2 linked regions of the Homo sapiens genome follow. The protein of the gene in region 2 interacts with the protein of the main gene of each other region in a pairwise test. Each region holds a gene or a part of one and is shown on either strand. Other genes may lie near its edges.

Region 1 (7,068 bases), about 12 Mb from region 2:
AGTGACTACCCTTGACTGGTTCACAGTTTGTTCCAGAGACAGATAATGAGGCAACAGTTCCAGTACAGTGTGAATCCTGCTGCGATAGGAACACAAATGCAGCTTTGAGCTCCTGCAGCTTGTACTTCTTCAGGGGCTTATTCTCTTGTCCTGTAAGTAGTACACTTTTGAGGTAAGGTGAAGACAACAGCACTGTTGCTTGCTCGGTTTGTGTTTTGTTTGTTTCTTTTGCGATTGGCATAACGGAACAAAGAAATAAAAGATGTAGTTCTGAGGTTATGCAGTTGAGTGGCCCGGCTGGGAGCAGCCCTCTCCAACCAAATCAGGCCTTTCTTTCCTCAAACAAGATAATCTCAAAACATAACCTGGTGGTTTTATATGTCTTCACTGTGGAGATGTTTTGTGCTGTTCCTCTTTTTGTTTATAACCTATTTTTCCTTTCAATAGACTTGGTTCTTTTTTTTTTTTTTTTTTTTTTTGAGACAGGGTCTCGCTTTGTTGCCCAGACTGGGGTGCAGTGGCATGAACACGGCTCACTGCAGCCTCAGCCTCCTGGGCTCAAGCGATCCTCCCACCTCAGCCTTCTGAGTAGCTAGGACTACAGGCATGCATCACCACGCATGGCTAATTTTTTAATTTTTGTAGAGACAGAGTCTTGCTGTGTTGCCCAGGGTGGTCTTGAACTCCTGGGCTCAACCAATCTTCCTGTCTTGGCCTCCCAAAGTCTTGGTTCTTTTCACTAGGACATTCTCTTCCTCCACCAAATTATGGAGATAAGAACTTTGTTTATAACCTTAAAATTTTCTCAGTAGTCAGTGGTGTTAACATTGGGCCACTACACAATTACACACACTATTCTTGAGAATGTCTAGGAGTGTTTTATTAGGTAATACCCAGTTTCTTTAAGGTAAAGGAGTGATAGGGAGCTGAGGCTGTGTGCATAGGGTGCTTGGATTTGTTTCTCTGGCCGAGCATACCCTTAAAAGTGTCGGGCAGTAGAAAATGGATGGAATTCCACTCCTGAATCTGCTACTGTTACTTTTGGCAAGTTACTCAATCTCTCTGAGGTTGTGTTTGGAGGTATGTAAAATAAAAATAAAAATAGCTATTTAGTTGAGTTGTTAGGAAGAACAAGTAACATATGTAAAGTGTCTCCATGCTGGCATGCCATAGTAACCCCATAAATGATTGCTGTTGTTATCTTTGTAAGTGAGATATACCAGTGTCTTTCTGACCGTGTCTTTCTGACCGTGGGATTTTGAGCTACTGGTGTGCCTTTGCTTTATTCTTGGTCTCATTCCTTCTTTATGTCTCAGAATATCTCTGTTGTTCCAAACCAAAGTTTGAGCAGACACAGTATAGTAAATGAGGATAGCCAGTGTCCAAGGTAGCTGGTTATATTTTTTCCAGAGGTGATCACTGCCAAGTTAAATTAAAAAGGGAAGACCAGAGTTTCCCTGTCAGTTCTAATGGGCATCACAGTTGCATTTCCACGATATAAGGAAAAAGGACACTTGTGATGTAGTTCTCTGGCAGGTATTGTGGGCGGGAACATGGTAGTAGCATCCAGCTCCAGTCTGCCCCTGTCCTGCCTCCAGTCAGGGCTGTACGCTGTGGACCAAAGATCATGCTCGCTGATGAGAGCCACCCTGCTGGTGACCTCAGTGCTGCCGACCCATTTACATCCCAGCCCTGCCACATTCCTACAGTGGGAGGTTGAACACATTTCTTAACCTTGATGAGCCTCAGTTTCATCATCAGTAAAATGAAGTTAATGGAACCATGGAATCTACCTTGGAGAGTTGCTAGAAGAATTAAATGAAGTCACATATGTTTAGTGCCCAGCACAGCGTCCAGCACATAGGTGGTACAGAGTAAGTGGTAATTTTAGTTTTCTTTCTACCCTCTTTGTGGAGGACATTCATGCAAACCCTCTCTTTCCCTTTTTACCTCTTTTCTTCCAGTCTGTTTTTATCCCTTAGAGTATTAAATGCAATAAACAGGATTTGGCTAAATGGACATAGTAGTATTTTTGAAAAAACTAGCCACAATCCAGTTATATCACTTCTCATTCTCCTGAATCAGTGTGTTTAACCTACTGGTTGACATCCATTAGTAGATTATGAAATCCAGTGGGTCACAACCACAATTTTTGTTTATAAATGGAATAGACTAAAATAGGAAAAAGCCACAATGTGTATGCATATTATCGATAAATATTGTTTGGGAAAACCTTTGTTCAGGTCCTGATGTATTTCATACTGTGATTATGAATTTTTGAAAGTTCAGAGAGCTCTTCTAACACAAATTATACACTGTACAAATTCTGTGTTGTTTTTCTTTCACTGAGAGCTTTTTTAAACATGATGTTACAATTTCCTTATTCATTATTGCACAGTGGCTCTTCTATGGATAAGCATTGGTACTGAAGACAGTACATTAGTCCTGGTGTTTTTAGCCCGGAAGACTGGGCAAAGCGGGATAAGCATGCATTGCTGTGAAGCGCATCAGAGTTTTGGAGCAGAGTCTGGGTAGAGCATGTGTGGTGGGAGGTAATGATCCCAATGCATAGGTTCTTATTCTAGTTTTTTGAGGGTGCTTTGGGGTCAGTTACTGTTCCTTTACCTGAAATAAGTTAGAAAAAGAAAAGGAGGAATTGCAATTTATTTGCAGGGAAATAATGAGCCTTAGTGAGTTGTATTTGGTAAAGTGCTTTGATATCACCTCAAAGGCATTCCTGAAATTATTCTTCATTCTATGCCTAATGGGTTATATTTTGAAGTTGTGATCCAATTATTGCTAACATAGTACTTTAAATTCCCACTGTGCTGGGCACATTAACGAAAATCCCTTGAGTAGATCTGCCTCTGTGCACCTTAATTCTTGTTCGTACACCATCCAGTATGTAAATATTTCTCTAGTGCTTTTTGTGTTCTGAGCACCGTGGATGAAAATGATAGGAAATGCCTTTCAGCTTATGACTTTGCTCAGCTGCTCTCTGAGCACTGAGGAGTTTGTCTTCCTAAAAACGGTAAACTAGCATTCTTATTAAGTTGCTATTTGAGTTTTATGTCCAGAGCTGCTGCTGGTGGGCCCAGGGGTTGTGAAATTTCTTGGCCGTGAGTTTGAAAATGGTTGAATAAAATATAATTAAAAACAAGCAGGCCAGGTGCGGTGGCTCACACCTGTAATCCTAGCATTTTGGGAGGCCATGGTGGGTGGATCACCTGAGGTCAAGAGTTTGAGACCAGCCTAGCCAACATGGTGAAACCCTGTCTCTACTAAAAATACAAAAAATTAGCCAGGTGTGGTGGTGGGTGCCTGTAATCCCAGCTACTCAGGAGGCTGAGGCAAGAGAATCCCTTGAGCCCGGGAAGCAGAGGTTGCAGTGAGCCGAGATCGCACCATTGCACTCCAGCCTGGGCAACAAGAGCGAAACTCCATCTCAAAAAAAGAAAGAAAGAAAGAAAAAGAAACAAGGAAATCGTAGTACCATAAGAGGAAAGAATGACACACTCCTACACTCCTGCAAGACATCCAAGATTACAAAAAACCAGACTGCTGGTTCCTGCTGGGATGATCACACTACAGCTGTGCTAGATGACCACACCCCAGGTACACAGATAGGCCTGACCTGTGTTTATCTTATGGACTTGAGAGGAGAGGCTGCCCTTTTAAACACTTTTTTTATTGGATAGACTTTACTGGTGCTTAGGTAGGGGCTAAAGTCAGAACAGATAATAGCCCTTCAGTCATAATCTTTTAAAAACTGGCTTTTCTGGCTCCAATTCTGAAATTGCCCTGACACTGTAGTCTAAAGGATTAGAAAGCGAGCTCTAAACCAGAGCTCCAGGAATCAAATGGTACTGGTACTATCAATAAAAGAAGCCAGGGAACCAACAGGTACCTTTCTTTCCTCGCATTCTGGTTTCTGCATGTGCGGGTGTGTGGATCTTCCTCCTCCTCTGTAACTTTTCCACTTAGAAATGAAATTGACCTTTTTTCTTCTTTTCTTCCAGACTCGCTCTTTACTGAGCGTGTTTGAAGAAGATGCTGGCACCCTCACAGACTATACCAACCAGCTGCTCCAGGCAATGCAGCGCGTCTATGGAGCCCAGGTATGCTGCCACCCCTCACCTGGATACCGCAGAGTGGGCATTCTCTCCCCTCATCCTGAACTTCCCTCAGAGGTTGAGAAATTGGAATCCGAAAAACATCATTTAAGATTTTGAAACAAAATCAGAACTGTTTTCTCACTACTTTTCACCTCAAAAACCTAAGGACAGTCTGTTCTCATTGCTTAAGAGTGATTTGTCTTTAATTAGAACCATTAGAGATGGGCCACATAACTGCTCCTAATTTTTTTTTTTAAATTCAACCCAGTGGGAAACATTTGAGTCTCCTCTTCCTACTTGTGAATAAGTGGGTCCAGTATTTTGACACATACTCTTTGTCTTTTTCATAAATGGGCAGAGTCTTAGATGTCAGTGTGGGAGGGCAGAGATGTTTTTTCAACTGCTTCCTCTGAAAAGACTTGAGTCACAGTTCTGAAACTATCGGGTGGCTTCTTTGTTTGTGGAACAAATATCTCTGGCTTGCAAAAGCATGCAAAAGAAATTGCTGAGTAGCAAAAGTGAATCTTTTTAATGTCAAGAAGTGCCCATGTATGTTGCTTTCTAAGAGAAGATTTATGAGTTACTTAAAAATAAAATGCTTTATGTTACAAAGCATTGAACACATCACAATATTATGGTAACTGATCATTTTCATTGTTGATTCCTTGCTGACTTAAATCTTATGTGTTGATATTTTTCTCATTAATAATCTCTTAAGGAATATAGATTGGGCATCCCAAATTTGAAAATCCAAAATCCGAAATGCTCCAAAATCTGTAACTTTTTGAGTGCTGACACGACACATAAACGAAATGCTCATTGGAGCATTTTGGAGTTTTGGATTTGGGAAGCTCGACTGATACAGCAAATACTTCAAAATCTGAAAAAATCCTAAATCCTTCTGGTCCCAAGCATTTCAGATGCAGGGTACTTAACCTATACCACATTCAGTAGTATATAGCTCTTACTAATATATATAGTCATTTCTTATTACATAGGTTCACCACTCTATTACTGCTCATTGTTTTATTAGTCATTTCCCATCATATGGGAATAAGACTCAGTCCTTGCCGTTGGGGAGCTGACAGTTGGGTTGGGAGGCAGACAAAGCAATCACCAGAGAGCCTTAGAGGGGCCAGGAGAGGAGAGCCACCTAACCTAGTGGGGTTGTGCTGGGCACGCAAAAGGAGGGTGATTGTAAGAGTTGAGATTTATTGAATACTTAATAGCATCCAGGAACTTCCAGGGGCTTTTATGTTGATTATTTTATTTAAATTCCCCTAACAACTCTGAGGTGGGTATTGTTATTGTTATTATGCCTATGGTATTGGTTGGGAGACTTAAGGATTCTGATGGTGAGAAACTTGTCCAGGTGCACCCATTTAATTCATGGCAGAGCAAATCAGCTGGAGCCAAGCTGAGACTCTTCACTCCTAAGCATAGGGGAGGTGGCAGTAGAAGTGGAAAGAAGCAGCTGTACTTGAGAGGTATTTAGGAGGTGGATTGGTGATTGATTGGGTATGAAGGGGTCAGGTGGTAAAGGATGAATCAAGAATGATGTTCAGGTATTCATCTGGAACGGCAGGGTGGATACATGGGAGAACACAGGAAGAGGCGCAGGGTGCGTATGAGTGTGTGTGCGTGCCTGTGAGTGCATATCTGTCATGGGGATGCCCAACTGTAATTCTCTCTGGAAACACTGATTTTGAGGAGTTCATGGGACATCAAAGTGGATAAAGAGATCTTGTTGAAAGTTCAGATCCAGAGTACAGGGCTGGAGATATAGATAGGCAAACTATGCAGTAAGGTATAAGTGTAACTTATTAATTAGAACTAGCTTTGGGCTGGCCTGTAATCCCAGCACTTGGGAGACCAAGACGGGAGGATTGCTTGAGGCCAGGAGTTTGAGACCAGCCTAGTCAATATAGTGAGGACCTGTATCTACACAAAATTTTTGTAAATATTAAAAAAAGGACTAGAGTCTTTTTTTTTTATTTTTAATTTTCAGAGACAGGGTCTTACTCTGTCACCCAGGATGGAGTACAGTGGCATGATTATACCTCACTGTAGCCTCTAACTCCACGGCTCAAGTAATCCTCCTGCCTCAGCCTCCTAAGTAGCTAGGACTACAGGTGCACACCACCACACCCAGCTAATTTTTTTTCTTTTTGATTTTTGGTAGAGATAAGGTCCTACTATGTTGCCCAGGCTGGTCTGAAACTCCTGGCCTCAAGTGATCTGTCTTAGCCTTCTGAGTAGCTAGAACTAGTTTTAATGACCAAAAGAATTATGTGTTCACCTGTGATTTTATGTGTTTTGTTAAGACATTCAGAATTTAGAGAAATGAGAACTTCGTCAATTTTTGTTTTTGTATTTTTCCCTAAATATTCTAGATTTAAGAAAACAGGAATGTTCTTACTGGGCTTATACCTGAAATTGCTTGCTATTCAGCAATTTGTATTTCGTCACTAAGTGATTTGTCTCTTATTTAAGGCTTAAAAACCCAAGACGTGAGAGACTGTGTCTCTGTCACTCTGAGGAGTCTCTGTTCTGCCTTTCGGTGTCTGTCAGAATCATCTACTTGGGGTTATCCAAACGCTGTCTCATGCATTTTTTTCTGTTGAGGCAGAAAACGACATTTTGCCAAAATTAAGTGGGTCTTTCCTTCCTAGAGGCTGTAACCCAGCTTTTAATGCGCAGCATATGATCATCACGTGGGTTCTCCTGCTGGCCAGAAACCCTTCCTCCTGCCTCAGCGTTTCCTGCAGCACAGGCTGGTGAGAATGTCTGGTTAGTGCTGCCAGATTCAAAGACAGAGTCAAGCAGTGATCAGCTGTGTTCAGATTGGCTGGGCCAAGGACACTTGGTTTTTCAGGTTTCTTTGAAAGCTTAGGTGTTTCGTTTTGTTTTTAATTGAAGAAAGAAATCTTTTCTGATTCCTGTTTTGATCTGT
Region 2 (8,114 bases):
TCACCCAAAATGACCATAAAATTAAATTCAGTATTTTGATAGTGAAAGGCTTTCAGTTCACCTGTTTTGTTGTTTCCAACTATATGATGCCAGCAGAAACCTCTAAGTCAAATATCAGGAAAACACCAATAATTTTTTAACATTTCTCCAACTCTATGTTATCTATTCTGCTTTCAATAAAGTCATAAAAACATCTAGATACATTTTGTTCAGACATGTGGAGTATTTAATTTTGTAAGGACAATCCAAGCAGTGAATTCCAGTGGTCCTCAAAAGCCAGCTATGTCTAATATTTCAAAAAGCCTAAAGATACATTTAACTGTAACGAGCCCAGACTAGGAATGAAAATACTTTTGCTTTTTCCACTGGGATCTTACCAGGTCTTCCTAAAGTTAGCTGGCTATGTCATGCTGATCAGGTATTCAGACATATGTCAAAATATGAGGTCCATGGAGCAAAAATAGTAAAAGTGGTCTTATTATCAGTATTCATTTTTTTTAACCAGTATTTAAAAAATAGCAACCACGAAGTCTGGGGCCCACTGAACCGGAATAGTTCTATCACTCTTATCAGAAACCCCAGAGAACCTTGATTCTCTAACTTTGTTAAAAATTTGCAAGCCAACTTTCAATTACTTTTTTTTTTCAATTTTTAATTTTTGCCAGTTCAGTTCTCTGCCCCTCTATCTTTGTGAAACAGAGTCAAGGGAGGTTAAGAAAAAGCAAGTGTTTCCATATCACATCTTCTTCCTGCTACAAGCCAGGCTAACAGAACCAGAACTGTTTCTCTCTTCTCCAGCTTCCAATTCTCCTTCAAATTAAACTGAGACCCTCCCCAAACTATTGCTCTTTGCAAAATTAAATACTCCAGTGTCTGAACAAAGCTAAACTAAAAAGGACACTTTAAACGAATAACCTTTAAAAACAAACTAAGTCAGCCTTCAAAATAATCCCCTTTGGCCACACAGGACAGCCCAGGGGACAGGTGCAGGGCATGCCTTCCTAGAGGCTGTCTCCTCCTCCATGAATCTGACCTTTTCCAGCTGGTAGCTCTGGCACCTCACAAATCAGTTGTCAGTAGGCCGAATGCCTGCTTTCCCATCTGCACTTTCCAAATGGCTCCTGATGCCAACGGCTGAGATATGACCTGGCTCTCTGATGAGAACATGCTTCCCAAGTGACATGCCAGGTTTCCTGGAAGCATTTCTAAATGCATTCTCTGAGCTCCCTCCCTCACCTCCCAGTCACGGTTCATTCTTCCTTCCCTGCACTTCCTAATGCCACCTCCTGATCCTATTCCTCCAACGTCATGTCCCTTCAGTCCCAAATCCTTACCCACTTTCATCAACCATTGACCCTTGTCCTGCCTTACATCCCAACTTCAAATCCAAAGGGCATAGTTCTGGCTAGGTGTGGTGGCTCACGTCTGTAATCCCAGCACTTTGGGAGGCGGAGGTGGGTGGATCACCTGAGGTACGGAGTTCGAGACCAGCCTGGCCAACATGATGAAACCCCATCTCTACTAAAAATACAAAACTTAGCAGGGCATGGTGGCAAATGCCTGTATTCCCAGCAACTCGGGAGGCTGAAGCAAGTGAATTGCTTGAACCCAGGAAGCAGAGGTTGCAGTGAGCCGAGATCACACCATTGCACTCCAGCCTGGGCAACAGAGCAAGACTCTGTCTCAAAAACAAACAAACAAATAAACAAAAAAGCAAAGAGCATAGTTACAACATTTTGGAGCTGGTTCAAAGTGATCTTTCTGAGGCCTACCTGCAGGCAGGTCGGTCATGGCCTCTTCCCTTGCCTTCTTCAGCTTCTCCCTGACCCAGGGAAACTCCTGTAGGGAATCTAGGAATGTATCAAATGCTTTAGGGCCCCTGGAAGGTAGGATATCCAGCAGGAGCATTGTTTTCCGGAGGCCTGTGGTTTGAGCATTGATTTCTTGAATATGGTTTTCCGTCAAGATTCCTTCCTGGTAGAGGTACTGAAGAACCAGTCCCTCCACCAATACCTCTGCACCCAGCTCCAGGCGAAGTGAGCGGAGTACTTGTTTGTCTCTGGCCTCCATTTCTCCCTGGAAAGAGCCAAAATCACAGCTCAAATTACAGACATGTTGATGTGGCCCTAAAGACAGTGTCACTGCAATGTAAGTTCCTTCAGGTCAAGCACATCTTTAAACCATAGCAGACTGCCAGGTCATGGTATTTAATTCACTGATTAAGCCAAGCCAGGTTAATTTTGAATGTTTCCTAACATAATGAACAACAATGAAGATGAATCATCTTTTCTGTTTCTGCTTTTCACACAATGGGGTCCCAGCTCAATTCCTCGTTCAATAAAGAAATTTGGAAAAAGAAAAAAAAAAAGTGGGTCAGAGACCCTTCTGAACAAGCAATTTTTATCTGAAGATTACAGAGCAGCACTAATTTTAACACGCTGGAGAAGAAATGGTGGTTTTATTTTCACATTGCCCTCATCAGACCTGCACCACCACCACCAAGGCAGAAACTGCCAAGGTGGACGCAGGTCCCCTTTTTTTGATCACAAGTATTTGCAAAACCTGATCAGTAATAGGAGTGCAGGACAGAAATCAGCAGGTTCAGAATTTAAGGCTCTTTTCGCTAAAAGTCCTCTACACGATCACCTTTAAGAAAATTGTTGTTTGTGCCCAGTCTACAATAAACTTTACACAATATACAGTCACAGACTCCATTCCTTCCCACTAAGAATTCCGAATCTCCAGCACAACACTGTCGTGGCCGCACATGCATGGGACATTTTATGGGATTTTTTTCTTTCAAAAAAAGCACACACCCCAGCACTGGTCAGTAGCCAGGCACGATTTGAAGGTGCAGTTCCACCACCCCTGCACCAGTGTGCTGTGGCTTGGTTGTGTGTAAGGCAGTGAAGGTTAAGTGACCGGGAAGGCAGGCAGGGATGACAGATGGGGCTTCAGACACACCCGGGCAGTACGACCACGGCTAGGCGACACCCGATCCCACACTCCCCCTCGCAACCCTGTAAAGTTCAGGAGGTGACAGGTGAGGAGGGGAGGTGTTCACGTTTGGCCGTGAGCGCCCATTGGGAACTATTTAAAAAGGCTCTGCTTCGGCCGCTGAAACCCTTGTATCAAACAGGAAGACTACGGGCGGTTTCTGCGGCAACTTGACCCGCTAAAGAGGGAGTGCTGGGAATGAACTAAAGAGCGGACCAAGGGGAGAGCGGGCCTCCGGCACTGCCGCAGCCACCCAGCCTTGGCCCGGATCGGAAATGCGGAGCAAGTTAGCGGGGCGGGGAAGCCCCCGCAGGGCCCAGGTCGCAGACGCTACAATGCAGGACTTTCAAAGAAAGATGGATTCCTGTTACTTACGTCTGCAACCACGTATCTTTGGGGCGGGGGAGAAAAACTGCAACCGGAATCCTGACTGTTAGGGAACCTGCCCCATAAGCACCATCTTTGTTAATGGCGAAAACCCTAAACAGGAAGTGTTGACACCATCTTTGTTGAGGGCAAGTACAGGAAGTGCTGTCGCCATTTTTATTGAGCGTTCAAGGGTCGGATCGAAGCTCTTCCCGCCATGCTTACTGTGGGTAAACAATTCAATAGCGGGGAGATGGACAACCGTAGTGTCACTTAAAGGGTATCTAAGTAATGGAGTAATTGAATCATTGCATTTTAACACAGTAACTCCATCAGGGCCTCGCACACAATTGACCTAACAGAGAGGCAGGTCAAAAGCCACCCTAGTAGAGAAGCCTTCTCTGACCTATCTGATTAAAACGGCAAGACAGCTGCGCTCATTTCCTGCACTCCCCATTAACCAGCTTTATTTTTTACGCATCACCATCTTATTAAAACTTTTCACTTATTCATTTGTTTATCCTTCTGCTTCCCTCCATTAAAATGCAAGGTCATTTATTTATATCAAGGGTTCCTGCCCGCAAAGAGTTTACAAATCTGTCAGTCAGGATTTCATTGCAGCACTCAGCTAGTTACTCCTAGTCAGAAAGGGATTCGTTAGGGGGAATTGGGGACATTCGAAATCATTGGAAAGGCTGGAGAAGGGCTGAGCTGAACATCCATGGATGACTACCTAGATAAGATTGCTGATTGTGGCTGCTGCCCACAATCAGGAAGATGGCGTCAGGAAGTTGCCATGCCTGGTCCCCAACCTCCTCTCAACACCGACAGAACAATTAACAGGACACTGGAACAGTGCTGCAAAAAACGGTGGTCTCCACGGCTGCATTTGCCAGCAGCAAGAAAACAGCACCTGCAAATCTTGCTTTGCTGCGTGCCATTGGTGAGACCAATCTGACATGCAGAATATTAGCAGCAAGGATGTCTAGAGCATGTAGTTGGTAGCTTTCCAGCTTGTGAAACACAAAAAGGTATAGTAAATGAGGGAAGGCCTGACACTTAAAGCCAATCTACTGCATCCACCACATTTTCAATGTGGAAAGCAAGAAAAAATGCATGACCCAAATACAGAGAAACACAGCAATGCCAAATTGGGTGTCCTTCCTCACATTCCTTTGTGAAGCGAGGCAGGCGATCAATAAATACATTCATTGATTCATTTTTAAATCAATTGGATGATACATACAGAAAGTCATATGCTTACTAAAAATCAGTTGACAGTACAGGGGGAAAAAACTCCTAAAATATTATTTCTGCAAAGGTTTTCACAGCCAAACCCTTTGGTGGAAAATGAAAATATCTTTGTTAAGCAAATCAATGGAGAACAGTTCTGAACCTCCCTCCTCAAAACCTTCTAAAAATTGTATTCAATTTACAGCATTACTATGCCAGTTACCATTTTACTACACCGTTAATGACAGTATTTTTACCTATGTGGCAAGTATTATTATTATTACAGTCATGCATTGCATAACAATATTTGGGTCAATGACAGACTGCATATATGATGGTGGTCAGAGCAATAGGCTATGCTATATGGCCTAAGTATGTAGTAGGCTATACCATCTAGGTTTGCATAAGTACATCCTATTTTGTTTGCACAATGACACATTTTTCACAATGTATCTCCACTGTTACAACTGTTTTAGCATTTGCATGTATAAAGACTGTGGAATCAGAATGGTCAATTGTCTTAGGCAAAATCTCACAGCTAATATAGAGCAAAACTTGAAGTCTAATGAAGTTTCTCTGATTTCATGCTCTTTCCAATACACCATACAACCTTGTATAGTGAAGAGTTTATTGTTCTAATGATAGCCAAATATTATTTGCAAATCATCCTGTTGCCACCTCCCATTCTTGATACTCTTGAGTTCCAGGTGCTCTCTTTTCTCTCTCCCTTTTCCCCTTTTGCTTGAGAATCATTGTCCTTTCCTCAGCAAGATTTCCCATCTGTTCATAGACAAATGTTAGCACCATTCTTTGTCTTCATCCAGATAAAGTGCAGACCACTTGCAACACTGCCAAGCGTTGAAGTTTACAGGTTAAACATCCCTAATACAAAAATTTGAAATCCAGAATCCTCCAAAACCTGCCTGAGAGTGGTGGCTGACACCTGTAATCTCAGCATTTTGGGAAGCCAAGGCAGGCAGATCGTTTGAGCCCAGGAGTTCAGGGCCAGCCTGGGCAACATAGGGAAATCCCATCTCTACAAAAAATACAAAAAATTAGCCAGCCATGCTTGTGTACGCCTGTAGTCCCAGCTTCTCAGGAGGCTGAGGTGGAGAATCAATTGAACCCGGGAGGTGGAGTTTGCAGTGAAACAAGATCATGCCACTGCACTCCGGCCTGGGCGACAGAGAGAGACCCTGTCTCAGAAAAAAAAAAAAAAAGAAAGAAAAAGAAATGCTCCAAAACCTGAAGCTTTTTGGGTGTCAACATGACGCCACAAGTGGAAAATTCCACACCTGACCTTATGTGATGGGTCTCAGTCAAAACACAAACCTTTGTTTCATGTGCAAAATTATTTAAAATATTGTATAAAGTTACTTTCAGGCTATGTGTATAAAAAGTATATATGAAACATAAGTTTTGTGCTTAAACTTGGGTCCCATCCCCAAGTTACCTCATTATGTATATGCAAATATTCCAAAATCCCAAAAAATCCAAAATCCAAAACACTTCTGGTCCCAAGCATGTTGGGTAAGGGATCATCAACCTATACTAACTTTTTTAGAGAGGAAAAGCAAGTGGATTTTTTTCTAACTGTGAACTTCGATAAATTTCAAACATATAGGAAAGTTGAAACAAATAGCGCAATAAACGCCCATATAAAGTTTCATATTTCTTGATGACTCATCATATTTGGAAAGGCTTGAGATCTCCTAGAAGCTAGAAGGTGAGCCTTGATGATGATGCCCAGGAGGAGGTGGGGAACCAACAATAGGATCCGTGAGGGTTCACAGAAGAGAAGCAGCCAGAGACAGCAGGAGAGTGTCAGGGCAGCAGCCGAGGGGCATGGCGTCCTATGGTAAACAACCTGAAAGGGTGGCCATTAAAGATCTGACTTAAATCTGCAGCGTGAAGTCTTTAATCATCGAATGCCTCTTCCCATGGCAAATACAGATGAGGATCCATGCTGTCTCTTAAGCAACTAGGCTGAACGACTAGCCCACTGCCATCAGCCACCCCACCTCAGCATACAGCGATACTTCATGGCAGTACACCAAAGACCCAACTTTACTTAGACAGATTAGCTAAGGCCAGAGGGCTTCTAAGGAATGGAACACAGATCAGAATCATTATCACAGGTGGTTACTCCTCCGCTCTGGCCAGACCCTCTGTAATCTGAAATTGTGCCCCCACGGAGGATTAAGCACCTGTTACCCAGTGGTAACGAATCCACAGGAAGGACAGATATTTTCATTTTTCTCTCTCCCCTAGTATGTTTACTTGTGTCAAGATATCCCTATTGTGAGTTTGCAAAATAAAGAGTCAAAAAGAACAAATGCAGTATTTTTCTCTTTCGGTTTGGTCTTTGGTTTTGCAGCCTTCAAAAAATAAATAAAAGGAATTGGATGTTTTGGTTCTTCCTGTTTCATTGATGTAGAAATTAAGTCATGGGGAAAACCAGAGTCTTTTCAAGCATACTTGAAACATTTATTAAAATAGATCATAAATCAGGTCACAAAGAAGCATTAATAAATTCCTGAAAATCACTAGCATACAAACTATGTACTCTATAATTATACAATAAAATTAGATATTTTGACAAAAGGATAGCTTCCATAAATCCCATAAATTTGGAAACTAAATAAAACAATTCTTAAACCCTTGGGTTTAAAAAAAAGTCACACCTGTATAACTAATAAAACATAGAAAGAAAGAAAGAAAAAGAAAAACGTGATAGTAGAGAAACCTGGCAAACATCGCCTTAACCAAGTGATCAAGGTTAAACCTCCCCAGTAATTAGTCATGGAGATATCATGTGCTCCAATACGATGTGACAAGAAAGGCATATCTCCTTTGCAATATTCTCCTTTAAAATTCAGAACCTCAGTGTTTTTGTAAGAAAACATCAGACAAACTCAAACTGAGAGATATTCTGTTAGGTTGTTGCAAAACTAATTGTGGTTTTTGCCACTACAAAATATCTGACAAGTACTTTCAAAAGTGTCAAGGTCATGAAAGACTGAGAAATTGTTACAGATTGAAGAAGACAAGGAGGTGTGACAACTTGAGGCAGGGAAGGAGCAAGAGAGGGAGGATCAGAAGAGAAAGAAGGAGAAAAGGAACTCCATAAAGGACTTGCTCATAGTCAGGGAGAAATGAAAACTTCTGGGACCAAATTCCTAGTCCCCATTTTATCTTAGCTATTTTCTTGACATGCAGCATAGAATTTCATATGGTCTCTATTTCCTGGACCAACGCTCCCCAAAAAGAGATGAAATAAGAATTTGTCAAAAGAAATACAGACATCTATCCCTGTAACTGTAAATCCTTAAAAAAAAAAAAAACTCACTTGAAATATGCAAGTGTTGCCTCTTTCTGTATAACTTTTGATTAAGATATGCTGTAGATAATATCATCTGCACTAATAAATTATTATTTTACTAAGTTATGAATTCCAATGATTCATTCAATTCTTTGCTATCTAATTTTCATCTTAATTACTGTTTGTTGTAAAAATC

Evidence for each region. The genes of interacting proteins can lie anywhere in the genome.
Region 1: the proteins of CRADD (region 2) and APPL2 interact in binary tests that used the Homo sapiens proteins (3 or more experiments, as listed by UniProt).

The regions. Positions count from the first base shown.
Region 1 is NC_000012.12:105,226,175-105,233,242, reverse strand, and holds part of APPL2 (DCC-interacting protein 13-beta), read left to right. Parts: exon of another isoform or gene 1-3,600; coding exon of another isoform or gene 3,601-3,615; intron 3,616-4,019; coding exon 4,020-4,118; intron 4,119-7,068. UniProt on the Homo sapiens protein: Multifunctional adapter protein that binds to various membrane receptors, nuclear factors and signaling proteins to regulate many processes, such as cell proliferation, immune response, endosomal trafficking and cell metabolism.
Region 2 is NC_000012.12:93,672,731-93,680,844, reverse strand, and holds the start of CRADD (death domain-containing protein CRADD), read right to left. Parts: upstream 3,471-8,114; 5' UTR 3,373-3,470; intron 3,275-3,372; exon of another isoform or gene 2,817-3,274; intron 2,077-2,816; 5' UTR 2,071-2,076; coding exon 1,773-2,070; intron 1-1,772. UniProt on the Homo sapiens protein: Adapter protein that associates with PIDD1 and the caspase CASP2 to form the PIDDosome, a complex that activates CASP2 and triggers apoptosis.